Linked DNA regions of Homo sapiens: region 2 is linked to region 1. Evidence: fine-mapped expression QTL. Tissue or cell type: whole blood. Region 1 holds a variant in brackets; the other region holds the start of a gene. All regions are shown on one strand. Distances are between the middles of the regions.

What was found. PIP is the estimated chance that this variant, and not a neighbour inherited with it, causes the effect.
Region 2: it holds the start of MINCR, and the variant in region 1 is fine-mapped to the expression of MINCR in whole blood (TOPMed, PIP above 0.99).

The regions. Positions count from the first base shown.
Region 1 is chr8:143,247,265-143,255,349 of GRCh38, forward strand. ZFP41 (ZFP41 zinc finger protein) reads left to right here. Exons shown (of 3, transcript NM_173832.6): 2 at 2,426-4,076. The coding sequence starts at 2,580. The coding sequence ends at 3,176. Among named protein-coding and RNA genes, the nearest start is that of ZFP41, 4.4 kb to the left of the region's middle. RefSeq lists silencers at 1-19, 60-109 and an enhancer at 3,420-3,920. The variant G/C (reference allele first, on the strand shown) is at 4,107.
Region 2 is chr8:143,278,018-143,286,106 of GRCh38, forward strand. It overlaps MINCR (MYC-induced long non-coding RNA), which reads right to left and starts at 3,683. Exons shown (of 3, transcript NR_120682.1): 1 at 3,465-3,683; 2 at 2,865-2,980; 3 at 2,138-2,498. RefSeq lists enhancers at 1,524-2,166, 3,463-3,612.

The DNA.
Region 1 (8,085 bases):
CGGGCGCCGGCCCCGAGGCCGACCTAGCTCTGCACGTGGGCCGCGGGGCTCTGCCGTTGAAAGGAGAGCCTCTAACTAGGAGCACGCACGGGACCCTGGCGGGCCCCTCCGCCTGGCTCAGATGCCTGGCATCTCAGGCCTTGGCACAGCTAGCAGGCCCCTGGCAGGCCGTGGACCCAGCAGGCTGTTTTAGTGCAGATTGCCCCTGAATCTCAAGCCCACTAATGTTCCAGTCTCTCCATGAGACCCAGATCCCTGAAAGTAGTGGAGGGAGGCGCCAGGGTGAGTGAGGTTTTCTAGGCAGCCCTTACCGCCCACGGATACCCAGAGCTTCATATTACAAGTGAAGGGTCCTCCGCCCAGAGAGGCGACGGAGCTACGCTGGAGTTGCACGACAGAACCAGAACCCCAGTCTTTAGGGGTGTGGCAAGCGTGGGTTGCGCTGTTTGTAACTAGCTAATCACTCCTGTCTACAGGCCTGTGAGGTGAGGCCAAGAAAATCGCTATGGTCCAATCCGTTTTTGTTTTTTGCGTGTGGGGTTTTTTGTTTTGGTTTGGTTTGGTTTTTTTGTTTGAGACGGAGTCTTGTTCTGTCGCCAGGCAGGAGTGCACTGGCGCGACCTTTGCTCACTGCAACTTCTATCTCCTGGGTTCAGGCAATTCCCCTCCCTCAGCCTCCTGAGTAGCTAGGACTACAGGCACGTGCCACCACGCCCAGCTAATTTTTTGTGTTTTGGTAGGGACAGGGTTTCACCATGTTGGCCAGGATGGTCTCGATCTCCTGACCTCGTGATCCGCCCACCTCGGCCTCCCAAAGTGCTGGGATTACAGGCATGAGCCACCGCGCCCGGCCAGTCCACTCTGCTTTTAAGAAATATTTTATTTCTCAGGGTGGGCAGCGTGTAGAGAAGTGAGTCATTCCAGTCTCTGCCGGTTAGCACCTGCCAGCCTAAGTTGAGTCGACAGAGCCGTTATGGAGAATGTTCCCTGACCACAGTATGTGACTAGGATTTGGAGATAAAAAAGATACGATCCTCGCCTTCAGGAGACCCTGTCGCATAAGGAGACTGCCATGTCAGTGACCAGCCACACGTGCAGTGACAAGTGTCTGGAAGAAGGAACAGTGCTGTACAGCATGGAGGACCCCCACACAGGCCTCGGGCAGCAGCCGTTAGGCTCAGTGGGTTCACAAACCACCCCCCGCCCCGCCGTGGAGTGGAGTCTGCAGAGAGCCAGATAGGTTCCCGCCATGCCCTGGAGAGCTGCCGTTTCTCCAGCTCCGCCCTGCCCATGAGGCAAACAGCTGGTCGACTGGTCTTCTGTGCTGGTTCTTGGTTCTCACCTTTGTTTCCTACCAGAGCTGGACCCCGGCCTCAAACTCCAGCCAGCTTGGGCTGTGATCCTCTATCCTGGGCACCAGGGCCCACCCCCTGCCCACCCCAGCAGAGATGCTGCTTTATGCCTGCATCCTCCCTCAGCACACGTGGCCTTCATCTTCAGTTCTGGCGCCCACCTGATCTGCCTCCTCCCACACGCCACCTCTAGATAGAGCCCTAGAAAGTGATGTTGGCCTGAAACTGAGTCACATTCATCTAAACATTTTCCTGTAGAAAAGACCAGACCCTCCTTGTTGAGATAGGAAATCTGTAGTGAGTTTATGTGTTACCTGCACTCATGAGGGAGAGGAGGGAAGGCCACCAACCTCCTCTCAACAAAGAGAATTCAAAGTATTTATGTGTTGAGTTGTGTCACTTACGACATGCATATCAGCTCCACTTTCTACCTAGGGTCAACCCTGGCCTCAAACTCCAGCCTGGTTGACCAAGAACTAATACAAAGGGTACGGAATATTATTTCTTAGAATATGACTGGGCATGGTGGCTCCCACCTGTAGTCCCAGCTACTCAGGAAGCTGAGGTGGGAAGGATGTGACATGAGGGGTTCTGCTGGCTGCTGTGGTCCATGGCAGGGGGGCAGCCCTGGTTTCATGAACTCAGAACCCAGCCTCTGGGGGATGGAAGCACTCTCCACTGGGCACGTGTGGTCCCTGCAGCCTGTAGCTTCAAAGCACGGTGACTGGTTCCAAGCCCAGTATGGTGGAGAAGGAGACTACGGCAGGAACCAGGGGGATTCGGGGGTGGAGGAGGGAAGCCGCAGGGCAGTTGGTGGGTACATCAGATCCTGTGGACATGGTGTGCAGACCCGGAACCCCGGCAGAGGAGCAAGGATTCCTTGGTGAGCAACTGATCCCTTCATCGAGACAAGGAAAGGCCGGGAGAGAGTCAGGTGGGGCTCCGGGGAGATCAGCAATGCCGTTTGAGACACTCTTGGGGGAACACATGGGAAGGGAGGGGCCGCACCTGAATCCCACATCCCCTGAAAGGCAAACCTTTAATCTGAGGTTCATGTTCTTGCTTCTCCCCAGCACCAAGAGGATGGTGGCCCTTGGCCTCCTGGTGCAGAGCATCAGTCCCACGCTGGGAGTGTGGAGAGGTGCGTGGGAAGCAAGCCATTGAGGAAGTGGGGCCAACAGAGAGGTCAGCAGCCCCTTAGCCCTCACGCTTCCAAGGAACAGAATGATGGAGAAGCCTGCAGGCAGAAAAAAGAAGACGCCGACCCCAAGGGAGGAGGCAGACGTGCAGAAGAGTGCGCTCAGAGAGGAGAAGGTGTCCGGGGACAGAAAGCCACCTGAGAGGCCCACTGTGCCCAGGAAGCCCCGCACAGAGCCCTGCCTGAGTCCTGAAGACGAAGAGCACGTCTTTGATGCCTTCGACGCTTCATTTAAAGATGACTTTGAGGGGGTTCCCGTGTTCATTCCTTTTCAGAGGAAGAAACCCTATGAGTGCAGTGAGTGTGGGCGGATCTTTAAGCACAAGACAGACCACATTCGCCATCAGAGGGTCCACACTGGAGAGAAGCCCTTCAAGTGTGCGCAGTGCGGGAAGGCCTTCCGGCACAGCTCTGACGTCACCAAACACCAGAGGACTCACACGGGAGAGAAGCCCTTCAAATGCGGGGAGTGCGGGAAAGCCTTTAACTGCGGCTCCAATCTCCTGAAACATCAGAAGACGCACACCGGGGAGAAGCCCTACGAATGCACGCACTGTGGGAAAGCCTTTGCCTACAGCTCCTGTCTCATCCGCCATCAGAAACGCCACCCTCGGAAGAAGCCCTGAGCCGGGGCCATCTGCGGACTCGGGCCCTGCGGTGCGAGCCTCGCCGGACACCTGCTCCGTGGCTCCCTCGTGTCCCGCGTCTGATGGGGGCGCAGGGCCGTGCGCACTGTGTTCCGTGCCCTGGGGACCCCCGGAAAAGCAGCCCAGTCAGATGTGGGAACGTGCCAGCGAGGGAGAGACCTTTCCACTGCAGAGAGTCTCTCTGATCAAGACACCGCAGTGATGGAGAAGCCACCAGAGGCTCCTTGCAGCCACAGAGCATTTTCCAAGTTCCCGATGGCGAACGGGGCTCAGCACCAGAGACCAGGGAGTATTCACTGCCATCCATTGGACGTGTTTGGGTCACCTCAGAGCACCCAGCAGGAGAGGCTCCTGGTGTAGTGGGCAGCCCAGCACTTCCCGCTGCTGCCTGCCTGTGATGTCCACTCTGCTTAAGCCTTTCATCTGCCGCTGAAGGCCCCAGTCTGGACTCTCTGCCCTCTGGGTCCCCGAGCTCTGCAGCGAGCCCTGGGACCACTCATCCCTGCCCAGCCAGCTTCAGTGCCCGGGGCCGCTTGTCCCTGCCCGGCCTCTGTGCCCCAACTGTGCTTGGTCCTCTGGCTTCTCTCCTCCTGCTGGAGTGCCAGTCCCTGAGCTCAGACCCCCGTCCCCGGAACTGGGCCACACCACGTGCCCTCTTGGCCCAGCCTTCCTCCCAGAGAGGCGGCCTGACTTACCTGGATGGACTTGGGACAAAGGTTCCTCAGGACCTTGGACACCACCACCTGCTGAGCTTCCCGTCCCAGCCATGCAGTGGGGCCCCTGGGGTGCCCTCGGCAGCTTCGGTCCAGCCTGCATCTGCCCCTCGGCCTTCCGACGTGGGCGGTGGGCCCCAGCCCCACAGACCAGCCCAGCATTCAGGTTAGTTCTACTTCTTCATGCCTGTACCCA[G/C]TCCTGTCCCACCCAGTGGCAGGTCCACAGGCCTGTGCCACCCTTGTGTCCATCCAGGAGCAGTGTGGACGGGATCCTGTGCTCTCTAGGGACTGTGGTTTATAAGAGGGTAGCAAATGACTTTGTAAACCAGGAGGTAAGGTTTTTTATTGGGAAATGTTGGCGCCTATGTTTTCAGCTGTTTAGACGTGAAACACTAATCACGGCCCTAGTCTTTGGGGATTCTGTCCTGGAAGGAGGGTCCCGATTCGAGCTGGAGATGGCCTTGGCCTTGTCCATTGAGCAGTCTCAGAAATGGACTAGGGTACACTGCCCGGATGATGGAGAGCAGTCCTGTCTGGGTGGAAACGTTTACTGGGTTAACACATTTTTCCTGCCGCGGTCTTTCTGAGGGCTGTAATATTCCTGCCTGTCTGTGTAGGCCCCATACCAGCTTGGCCACTGTGGGGTCACTTGGAAAGGGAGCCTTTCGGCAGGCCTCCCCTCCCACTGGGAGGATGCTTCAGTCCCTCTGCACTCAGACGTGTTGGAAGCACATTCCACACGCAGAGTGTGTCTCTTCTCCCGGCTGCTCCTGCTGCTGGCCTGGACAGAGGAGCCTGTTCCATGGCAGGGGGTCCTGAGTGCTGCCACTTGTAGTATCGTGGGGAGGCTGCTCGGCTCCCAGCCTCTCTCATGCCCACTGCCCATGGGCTGCACTGACAGATGTGTCTCCTCACTTCCCCTTCCCCGCAGAAATAGAAATAGCCTAGAACTGGAAAATAAAACTCCCGTAAATCCCAGAACCACACTGTCACCCACACTAGCTTTGCCTCTGGCCTGGTTAACTTTCTATATAGCAGGTCCCAGAGCCCAGCCCGTCACCTGCTCACACTGGGTCCTGACCCGCAGGGCAGCATCTCCCAGATGGCTGTAGGGCTCTCTGAGGTCGGGTGACACTCAGTGCCTGGGCTGGCTGCGGACCCAGGCAGGCTGGTCCATGCGGAAGGCCCCACCCCGCCATGCCCCCATGGCATTGCTGGTGTGGCTGTGCTCGCCTGCGGGCCCTGCCTTTGTTTGGGTTGAGGCTGTGTTGGCCTTCATCAGACGTGTTGCCTGGGGGGGTTCTGCTCTCGGGACCACACACACTGGAGGGGCCTCCCCAGCGCAGGTGAGCAGGTGAACCACCAGAGGGGAGCCGTGGCGCCTGTGGCCTCCTGATGGTCCTGCCGCCTCAGTCGCTGCTGGAAGCACGGCCTTCGTGGCTTCTCAATGGCCCGTGGTCCCAATGGGGGTAGGTAGGTGGCAAGTCCCGTGGTGTCGTGTACCTGCCTCTGTGATGACTGTGTCTCACACTATTGGGCGTGTGCTGGGGAGGCCAGTCTTCCCGTGGGGCTCCCCGGGGCTGTGGTCAGCCCACTGCCGTCAGCATGGGGGTGAGGGGGTGAGGGAGCGAGGGGGCGGGCAGCCTCAGCCTCACCTAGATAGACTGTCCCTGGATGCCGCCGGCGGACCACGGCCAGTGTTGACCCCCACAGGGCAGGACATCCTGGTGGGCCCCCTGGCCCGGATCTCCTTATGCAGCCGTTCCCGGTATGTCCTGAGGCTGGACGGCCTCAGCCAGCTGTCACCAGGAGAGGAATACTCGCACTCCCAGAAATGGACATATCAGGAGGTGAATTGTTCAGAAGCAGGCATCAGAGCACGTGTGACGTGTGATCCTGGATCGGAAGAGTTGCTTTGAAGGACTTTGCTGGGACGTTTGGCCGACCTGGATTGTAGACTCCAGGCACAGTCAACTGCAGGCACAGTCAACTGCAGGCACAGTCAGCACCAGCGCAGCAGGGACGGGGCGGTCCTCACTGACGTCCTCCTACTGCAGATGCACACTGAGGCTCTTGGCCGCAGAGCGTGGCGTCTGCAGTTCATGCCAACGGTGTGTGCACGTCCCCGGAGAGTGACAGAGGAGAGTGGCTAAATGTCAGTCATGGGGAATCTAGAGCACAGGTGGGCACGCTTCTCCGATGAAGGGTCAGGCAGGAAATATTCTTGGCACTGCAGCCATACAGCCTGTGCCTCAGCACCCACGGGGGACCACAGAAGGTTGGGGACCACTGCTTTAAACAACTAGCTCTCCCGTGAAGAGCAGGTCCCCACCCTGCTGTGTAGGGCAACAGCAGATGTCAATGGCATATGAATGAACGAGCGTGGCTGTGCCAATAAAACTTTATTTACAAACGTAGGAGGTGGGCCGGATTTGCTTGCCGATCCTGTCCTAGGTGAAGGGTGCATTCGAGCTCCTGGTATAGTTTGGACGTCTGTCCCCTCCAGATCTTATGTGGAAATGTGATCCCCAGTGTGGGAAGGGGCCTGGCAGGAGGTATTCGGGTCACGGGGACAGATCCCTCGAGAATGGCTTGGTGCCCTCCTCACAGTAATGAGTGAGCTCTCACTCTTGAGGTTCACTGGAGAGCTTGTTGTTTAAAGCAGTGGTCCCCAACCTTCTTGGCACCTGGGACCAGTTTTTTCCGTGGACAGGGAGTGGTGTGGATGGTTTGAGTATGAAACTGTCCCACCTCAGATCATCAGGCATTTGATTCTCATAAGGAGCGTGCAACCTAGATCCCTCGCATGCAGTTCACGGTGGGGTTCGTGGTCCAGTGAGAATCTAATGCCACCGCTGATCTGACAGGAGGCGGAGCTTAGGCGGTAACGCTCACTCGCCTGCCACCCACCTCCTGCTGTGTGACCCACTTCTAACAGGCCATGGACCCGTCTTGAGGTCAGGGACTCCTGCATTAAAGAGCCTGGTGCCTCCTCCCGTCTCTTGCTCCCTCCCTGCAGCCTCACCAGAAGCCAAGCAGATACCTGTGCAGCCTGCAGAACCGCCAGCCACGTAAACCTCGTTACAAAAACTTACCCAGCCTCGGGTGTTCCTTTATAGTAACACACAATGAACTAACACAACTCCCAGTCCTTGCACACGCTCTCTGTGTCTTAGTGTCCTTCAGAATTAGCTGTTGGCAGGGAAGAGCCGGCGTCAGGAGTCAGGAACTCGGACACAAGAAAGAAACCAGGGGGCGGGACAGGGAGCTGCTCAGAGCAGGCATCCTCTGCTGTCTGTCGGGATGTGCCACAGAGGGTGGCAAGTGTGGACACGGCTGTCTAGGATGGCCCAGGAGACGGGCACGCATTCCCTGGTGGTGTCTGCATTTGGTTTGATTTTACTTATGATAGTATGATCGTTGCTTTTCCCCGTTACTGACAATAGGGAGCGTTACTTTTTTTTTTTTTTTTTTTTTGAGACAGAGTCTCATTCTGTTGCCAGGCTGGAGTGCAGTGGCACGATCTCAGCTCACCACAACCTCCACCTCCCGCGGTCAAGCGATTCCCCTGCTTCAGCATCCCGAGTAGCTGGGATTTCAGGCACGCACCACCACGCCCAGCTAATTTTTGTATTTTTAGTAGAGACGGGGTTTCACCATGTTGGCCAGGAAGGAAGCATTACTTTTAATGCCTGCACAATGACCAGTTGAATCGAAAAGGCACAGGTGACTTATCCACTTCCCAGCATGGGCATGTGGGCTGTTTCCAACCTAGGTTATTATAAATAATGCCACAATAAATATCTTTTCCATATTTAGGGCCAATAGGACGGATTCCCAGGTGTGGATTGACATCTCACCAAATGCCAGCCCCAGGTCATGCCCACAGAGACGCCTGCAGCAGCGCATGGCTGGCAGGACCACCTCAGCCTCTCTAGCAGCAGGCAGGTGGGTTCCTGATCCTAAACTCACACTTTAATCTGATGTCTTTGATTTCTAGGACGCACGTAGTGGGTCAAGAGCATAGCTCTCAAGTCAGGGGCTGTGGACTTGACCCTCACTCTGGAACTGTGGGGCCTTTGCCTCAGTTTTCCCAGGTGTGAAATGGCGATGCTGACAGTGCTTAACCCCACAGGGTTGCCAAGAACAAGAACCGTAATACGTGACGTCGTAAG
Region 2 (8,089 bases), 31 kb after region 1:
GAACGCGGCTGCCCGGCTTGGGAGCCTGCGGCACAGGGCCCTGTGCAGCCCCTTGGGGAAGACGGCCCCAGGCTCTGCCAGCCCCCGCCACCCTCTCCAGACCATGCTCTGGGGGCCCTATGGCCACCAGCGCTCTGGACGCCCCACTCTGCCAGGTGAGAACGAGTTTAGGGGTGCGGGCTGGAGGTCAGTGTGTCTGTCCGAAGTCAGCTGGGAGGCAGGCGCCTACTTGAGGCGTCCTTGCTGGTGTGCGGTGGGCCTGGGGTTCAGACTGTCTGCCTGAAAGGTAAGGGTGAGGACGCCTGCATTCTCCTTGTTCAGTAACACGCGTGGGCAGCCAGGCCGAGGTGCTGGCTCTACTAGGGGATTCATCTGGTGCCGTCACTGATCGTGTGACCTCGAGCAAGCCACGAGTCACCTCGGAGCCTCCGGGTTCTTCTCTGGAAAACGGGCTTGCTGGGGGCTGATGACATCAGATGCGCGCTGCGCAGGCCCCCGCAGACACCGCCAAAAAGCGGGGACGGTAGCCTTCGTCTTCAACAGGACAGTGATCTCACAGGCCCACCACGGGCACACCTGGGGGCCAGGCCGGGGGTTCTGGAGGAGTCACAGCAGGAGGGCAGGTGAGACCTGGAGAGGGCGACCCCGGCGCCCGGGTTGGACTCCCGCCCGCTGCGACCGGAGAGGGGAGCCCGGCGGTCCTCCACGCCGTCCCAGATAGTCCCGGAAGTGGCCGCAGCTCCTGGAGGGGCGGGGAGGGGGCGGGGCCATGCGCACTCGCGGCAGCCCGCACGAGACTCCCGCAGCGGCAGCTGACGGGAGGCTTCCCGGAGAAGGAAGTGGGGTGCGGCGGGTCCTGGGCCAGGCAGGGCTGTTCCTCCGCGCCGGGTCCTAAACTCTCTGCAAGGTCTCTGTGTCCTCCCTCGTTGGGCAGGGCCCGCGAGATGCGCTGAAATGGCATTTACGTCTTTCCCAGTGTCCTCAGTGCCTTCTCCAAGCCCGCGGGCACGGGGCTGATTCTCGAACGTGCCATCTGATCCACTCAACATTTCTCGGGAACCCCAGAGCGGCCCGGCAGGACCCAGGCGTGGACTTTTAAGGGCATTTTTCTACCTTGTGGTGGCTGCCGGGTTTATCAGCGTGCAGTTGAACCGGACGTGATATTCCTGAGCCCTCCCGGGACGCCTGCGACCCTGAGCTGTGCTCGGCCTCTTGGTCACGCCTCTCCCCATCCTCCTTCGATTTGCGTCACACGAGGGCCGCTTGTCCGGGTGGCCGCCCCCGGGGCTGGCTCGGAGCCCCGTCCCACCCCTGCCGGCTCTGCCCCATCCCCCGCCACCAGAGGAACCTGGACGCAGACCACCTGGAGCATCTCCAGCTCAACGGCCAATCTCCAACCCACACCACCTCCAAGCCCACACCACCACCCCTCTCCCTCCTCCGACCCAGGACCCCGATTCTCAGCCTTCGCCCTCTCTCTCCTCCCCGAAGTGACCAGGGATCTTCCTAAAGATCCCATGGTATCTGGGAGCCAAGGTTTGGGATCTGCCAGCCCTGATTCCATAACCCACACTTATCCTTCCTCACGGAGCCTGTTTCTGCCTCTGACAATGGTGGTTAGCGCAGCCCGCTCCGCACCGCACATGGCGGCTGCAAGGACGGCATGGGTGGGGTTCTTTGCACAGTGCCAGGTACATAGCAAATCCCCACAAAAAGAGCTCCTGGAAGGGCTCTGTCAACAGCGTGAGTGGACAGTCTCAGCAGAGGACCACCTGAGGCTTGGGTTGGTCACAGCAAATGTGAGAGACCAGGAAAAGGGGTGCATGTGAGTTCTGGAACCCAGAAAGTGATCATCTGTATCTGGCACAGTATCTGCTTTTGAGCCCAGAAGGAAATAAAGGCCCTGGAGGGGCGCTGAACCCTAAAGCACTGGAGCTGCAGGGAGAGGTCTTCTGAGGCAGCTTCTGGCAGCCCCAGACAAGGGGAGGGCCAAGTGCTGACCTAACCATGGCCTTGGGGGCAGGTGTGCAGGCCTATGGATTAGCAAATAAGGACCGAAACATGCTTATGGATTAGCAATTAAGGACCAAAACATGCCTATGGATTAGCAATTAAGGACCAAAATGAGCTTAAGTTTGGACCCTTTTCAGTTCACAAGCGTTTTTATTTTTACATACATATATGTAGCATGGTGTATTGGCTAAGAAAATCGACCTTGGAATTTCAAGCCCAACTCTACAGTTAACTGTGAGGTTGGATGAGTTATTAATGTCTCTGAATCTATTTCCTGATTAGTAAATGATGTATTATGGTTCTCCAGAGAAACAGAACCAATGATGTGGGGTGGGGGAGGACAAGAGAAAGAGGGTTATTATCAGGAATGCACTCACAGGGTTATGGGGGCTGGGCAGTCCCAAGACCTGCAGCTGTCAAGCAGAAGAGCTGATTGAAAGCCAGTAGACTTGAGACCCACAAAGAGCTGATGTCTCCATTCAAGTCTGAAGGCAAGAAAAGACGTAGGTCCCGGTTCAGTCAGGCAGGAGGTGGTTCCTATGCGGGCCTTGAACTAATTGAATGAGGCCCACCCACATTATGAAGGGCACTCTGCTTCACTCAGTTCACAAATTCAAATGTTAATTTTATCCAAAAACACCCCCACAGACACACTCAGCACACACAGTGTCACTACTTACTCTCAGATTGCTCTCCAGACTGGGGGAACCAATTGACAAGGCCCCCAGCTCCCCCAGCTATGAGACTACATTCCCCATAACTTTTCAGCATGTTCACTTGATTCTCCAACCTTAACAGACTTGTGATATTACTTTAATGGCAAACAAGGCTCTGCTGTCCCACGCGCTTACTTTGCCACATGGCACAGTATCTGTGTCACAGACGCACTCTTCCCAAGGACAGGTCCAGGCCTGTGTCAGTCACTGCTTCATCCCAGCACCTAGCACAGGGCCTGACTCATGGTGAGCTGTGGACAAACGCACATGCAATTAACGACTTGTTCCTGCCTCAGGGTTCTCTTTTCCAGATGAGTAGAACAATTCACATTTTTTCACTCCTTACTTCAGACTGGGAGAAAGGGCCTGAGCAGAAGGATCAGAGTTCAAAGGAGGGGACACAGCGCCACAGAGGCAATGCCTGGAGCAACAAAGATTGGGGTTTGGGCATGTACTGGAGTGAGAGTGGAAAGGGCATGGAAGTCAGGGTCCAGTCAGAAGACAGAGGCCTCGTCAGTTATTTCAACAGAGAGGATTTCGCATCATGAATCACTATGTACGAAGTGACTACCGAAGGAGCTGAAAAGAGAACTCTATCTCAGAAGCAAAAACTGCAGGGAGCACCTGCTACGCTAGGGCTGTGGAAACAAAGGGAAGCGTTTGGAATTACTGGGGTCAGAAAGCCTGGGAACTAAACCCCTAAGGAGAGGGCTTCGCAGGTCTCTGGTCCCTGACCTGGCCCCGAGGGTGGGGACAGATCCCCGAGGCGAGGCGTCGATGGCTGCGGTCTGAGGTCTCTAGCGGGGGGCCGATGAAGCTCTTCTGCGAAGTTGGGAACCCGCGCACCAGTTTTAGCAGCCGCGGAAGGAAGTGCTCTTGCCGGGGCGAAGCAGCAGAGTTCGGAAGACACGCGACCAGGGCACCAAACAGACCGGAAGCCTGAGGAAAAAACCGGAAGCAAACCGGAAAGAGTGTGCCCCTCTCTCCTCCGCAGCCTCGCGCGCTTTCTCTGGCGCCCCTAGTGGGAAAGCCTAGCATGGCACCAGCTGGCCAAGCAGAAAAAGGTTTGCGGAGACCGGGCCAGCCGCAGAGGTGGAGCTGAGGGTCAAAACCTCCTCCCTGGAGCAGGAGGGCAGAGAGGCCTTCCTTGTACGTTCGAGCGGATTCATAAGATAAATGGTGAAGGACTCAGATGGCTGAGATGAGATTTTGTAGAAAAACCTCGCCGAGTGCCAAGTGCAGCTAGGGCTTCAGGAGTCCAGCCTGGTTTGTAAGCCTCGAGGAGCCCACGCGTGGCCGCAGGTGCAAATGGTCTCAGAGCAGCCATGCACGGGAGAATTCCTCCCAGGGAGAAACGCCGTGAATGTGACTTCTAGGGACACGCACAGCCGGTGGAAACCGTATGCATGTAGTGTGCATAGGTGAGATGTAATGGAACACTGGAGAAGCACCTTGTGAACGTGGGAAGGGTTTCGCGCATGCTCAGGCTCCGTTCGGGATCAGAACATTCCCGCAGGAGAGAAGCCAATGAGCAGCACTGGACGTGGCCACACCTTCGTGGAAGCGCTGGTCCTCAGGCATCAGAGTGGACATAGAGAGGCCCTGCAAATGTAATGACTGTGGGAACGCCCGCCTCCTGAGTTCATGCTGCCGTGAGGGAGCGGACTGTGGGTGCGGGCATGCGGAAAGGTCTCAGATAATCCCCACTGGAGAGGAACACTGTGGATGTCATCCACGCAGCAGAATCGGATAAATTGCACCAAGGGACCCCACCCCCACCCCCTGTGCAGTGACCACCGCAAAACCTTTAAGCAAAGATCTCATGCCCCGAAATGCCAGGGCCGTCACCAGGGATGCAGCAGGGAGTGAAACACCCATCTCTTTTCTCACACCAAACCGTAGCCAAGGGATTCACCACGAGGTGAGCCGGTGCGAGAGGGAGGACTCTGCAGGCGGAGACTGCCCTCGGGGTTGTGGCCTCAGAACGGGGTCCTGCTCCCTGGAGACATGGACCCTGTTTCTTACAGTAGCTTTTGTGCATCATGGGCAGGCAGTGCCAGTTGACACCAATCAAGTCTCAACACTCAGCCTGCACACGTGCAGATCCTCTGGAAAAACGCAGCCCCTCCCATCCTCAGATCCTAAGAGAGGTAGGGGCCTTGCCCATTAGCTGACTCCAAGACAACCTGGCTGGGACTAGAAGGTGAGAGCCAACCCCTGCGGCTGCTACAAGCCCCACAGGAGGCCCGGGGAGGGTTTCCTGGCAGTGTCTTCCGAGTCGCCGCAAGTTTCTGCCCAGTTTTCACAGCCTGCTCTTCCCTGGGTTCCGGCTGGGTCTCTTCCTCAGGTATGGCTCCACGCCTCCCCTGCCCAGTTGATGCAGGTCTCGCTCTGATCACATCCAGTTCCTGTAGACCATTGGCCACTCACCAGGCCGCTTTGCCTTGCGTTTTCTAGGGTCTTGTTTCATGGGGTCATGGGAACCCACTCAGGGACCACCCAACTACCTGAGAGGCCCACTGGAAAACGCAGATTCCCAGGCCCCACCCCAAGGGATTCAGCAGGCCTCAGGGGAAGCCAGGAAATCTGGATTTAGTTCAAATACCCAAATACATTGATCATGGGCCTGGTTCGGGAATCTGTTCTCCTCCAAGCCCTCAAAGCAGGAGCTGCTGGCCTGCCCTCTGCAAGGCCGCTGCCCAGGCTCTCCTCAGACACCACCTGGACGGGCAGCTCGAGCCGTGGGACGCCCCTGCTTGGGCCAGAATCGGGTCCTGCACCTCAGACCTGCAGGGCCCAGCTCGGCCTCTGGGCCTCTGGCAGCCGCGCCCTGCCTGGCACCCCCTGCCTCCGTGACGCCCCATCTCTCTCTCTACAACGTAGCCCCGTGCTAGTTCACAGCCTCGCGACCCCTCCCAGAGAGGCCCCACAGCCATGGCCCCCAGCCGCGCGAGCAACGCCAGGCACTCGCCCGGCCCTGGCCCGCCACCCTTGGGTTCGCCTGGGGTCCCCCGCCAGTCTTCCGAACGGGTCCTCCGAGCTGCCTAGAGCGCCCGGAAATGCCCTCGGCATGGGGCGGGGCTTGCGGGGGCGGGGCCGCGCTGCCGACTCGGGCTGGGCTTGGCTCACTGGGCCTAGGCAGTGCCTCAAGCGTGGGATACCCTGGTCAAGTCTTTAAAGATCACAGGTTTTAAACAGATTTCTTTTTACCCAATAGCATTTATTCATACTCTTTAAAGAAATTTGGGAAGTGTAGGAAAAATAGAAGAGACAGAAATTTTCTCCTCAGCACTACGGGCTAAGTATCCCAAATCCAAACACCCCCAATTCAAAACTTTTGAGCAGCTGACATGCCGCACAAAAGGAAATACTCACTGGAACACTTCAGATTTCGGATGTGGGAATTTGGGAGGCTCACCTGCTAACTATGGTACAAATATTCCCCAAAAAAAGCCAAAGCTTTTTTTTTTGAGACAGAGTCTCGCTCTGTCGCCCAGGCTGGAGTGCAGTGGCACGATCTTGACTCACTGCAAGCTCCGCCTCCCGGGTTCACGCCATTCTACTGCCTCAGCCTCCAGAGTAGCTGGGACTACAGGCGCCCGCCACCGCGCCCAGCTAATTTTTTTTTTTTTTTTTTAGTAGACACGGGTCTTCACCGTGTTAGCCAGGATGGTCTCGATCCCCTGACCTCGTGATCCGCCCGCCTCGGCCTCCCAAAGTGCTGGGATTACAGGCGTGAGCCACTGTTCCCGGCCGCCAAAACACTTCTGGTCCCAAGCATTTTGGATAAGGGATACTCAGGCTGTACAAGGAATGTCTGTGCACGTTTTTAGCAGCTCTTGCTGTTACACTAAATAGACTTCATGGTTAGCTTGTCCCTAAAATAACCTTCACGTCCTGAGGTCTGAGATCTGCTGGGAGCAGTGCTGGAAGCCCTATTCCCCCACAGCGAGAGGGGCGCCAGCATCCCTCATTTACGGGAGGAAATCGAGACTTGGTGAGGACGTCCCACAGCCCGGATTTGAACCCAGGCTTGGATCCGAGGCCCACGTGCTTGCTCCACAATGCCCCCTGCTGGCCACCCTCCCTGCCCTCAAAGATTGCTGTAACCAGAAGTGGACGAGCATTTCGGGGAGGAATGCTCCCCGCACAAGCCGAGGGGTCTCCCAGACTCCACTTTGGTGTCCCTGGAGTGCCCATGCCAGCGACCTTTTGGTGGGTCTTTTACCCCAGATGGAACTGTCGCCAAGTGTGTCCCCATCGTGGGGAGAGGAAGTGGATCAGCAGCGTCAGGCCTTGCGGAGGTGCACTCGCACCCTCCTGCGCTACGGTCTCAGAGGCAGGAGGACGCTTTCAGGGAGCCAGCCGCTGTGGCACCTGCAGCAGTTTCAGCAGTTGGGCAGCTCCAGCCGCCCTGCCACACCCTCACTCCTCATCCACTCCAAAATTCAACGCAGCATGCCGAGCCCCAGGTACGTTGAGGCGGAAAGCTATGGTCCCCGCCCGGAGGAGCCATGCAGTTCCCCGCAGCGTGGGTGGAGGAGGAGGGACAGGTGTCCCAGTCCTTGAGTCTCAGGTGGGCAAAATCATGCCACTACTGTGGCACTCGTGTGCCTGACTCCAGGCAGGGCCTTCCCGTCCTGCCGCCCTGCACTCTGTGCATGGCCATTCTGTGAGGCTGCTGCTCCTCAAGCAGCCCGTGGGATGGGAAATCCCCTCGTTTACACGGTAGACCATCCAGCCCAGCGCCTGCTGCAGAGCCTGGGTGAACAGCGTCTGGGTGACGAGAGTAACAGGCAGGATGCAAGTGGGAGCAGGCGGCTTCCCAGGACCTCGGTCCATGTGCCCATCCAGCAGGACCCTGAGCCCAGCTCCCATCTGGGGAGAGGGCTCCACGGGGGCAGGCAAGAGGGGCTGCATGCTGAGCTCCTGAAAGCTCTAGAATGCCCTCTGTAGCCATTACACTCGACGGAGGGCATGGCGAATAGCAAGGGCTTGGGGCATGTGGTTGGGTTTTAGGTTTTTCCTTGCAGGACTGTGCTGAGCCTGCACCACTGGGAAGCCCTTGGCCTCTGCCCTTTCTCTGAAACGCTCCTCTTCTGCCTGGATGCCTTGGTCATTCTTTCCTCATCCATAACCTTGAATAGCTTCACCAAGATCCGTGCTGGTGTCAATATTTTATATTAAGTTTTCCTGGGATATGGTGTTCTTGATTTTTTTGAATTAGGGTATAATTTACATAGCGAAAATGCCCAAATTTTAAGCACTCGGCTTGACTGTTTACATGTTTACACTCTTGCTAATCCCCCCAGGTCACAGCATGGAACTTTCCAGAGCTTCTCCTCCCTTTCCCTTCCCCT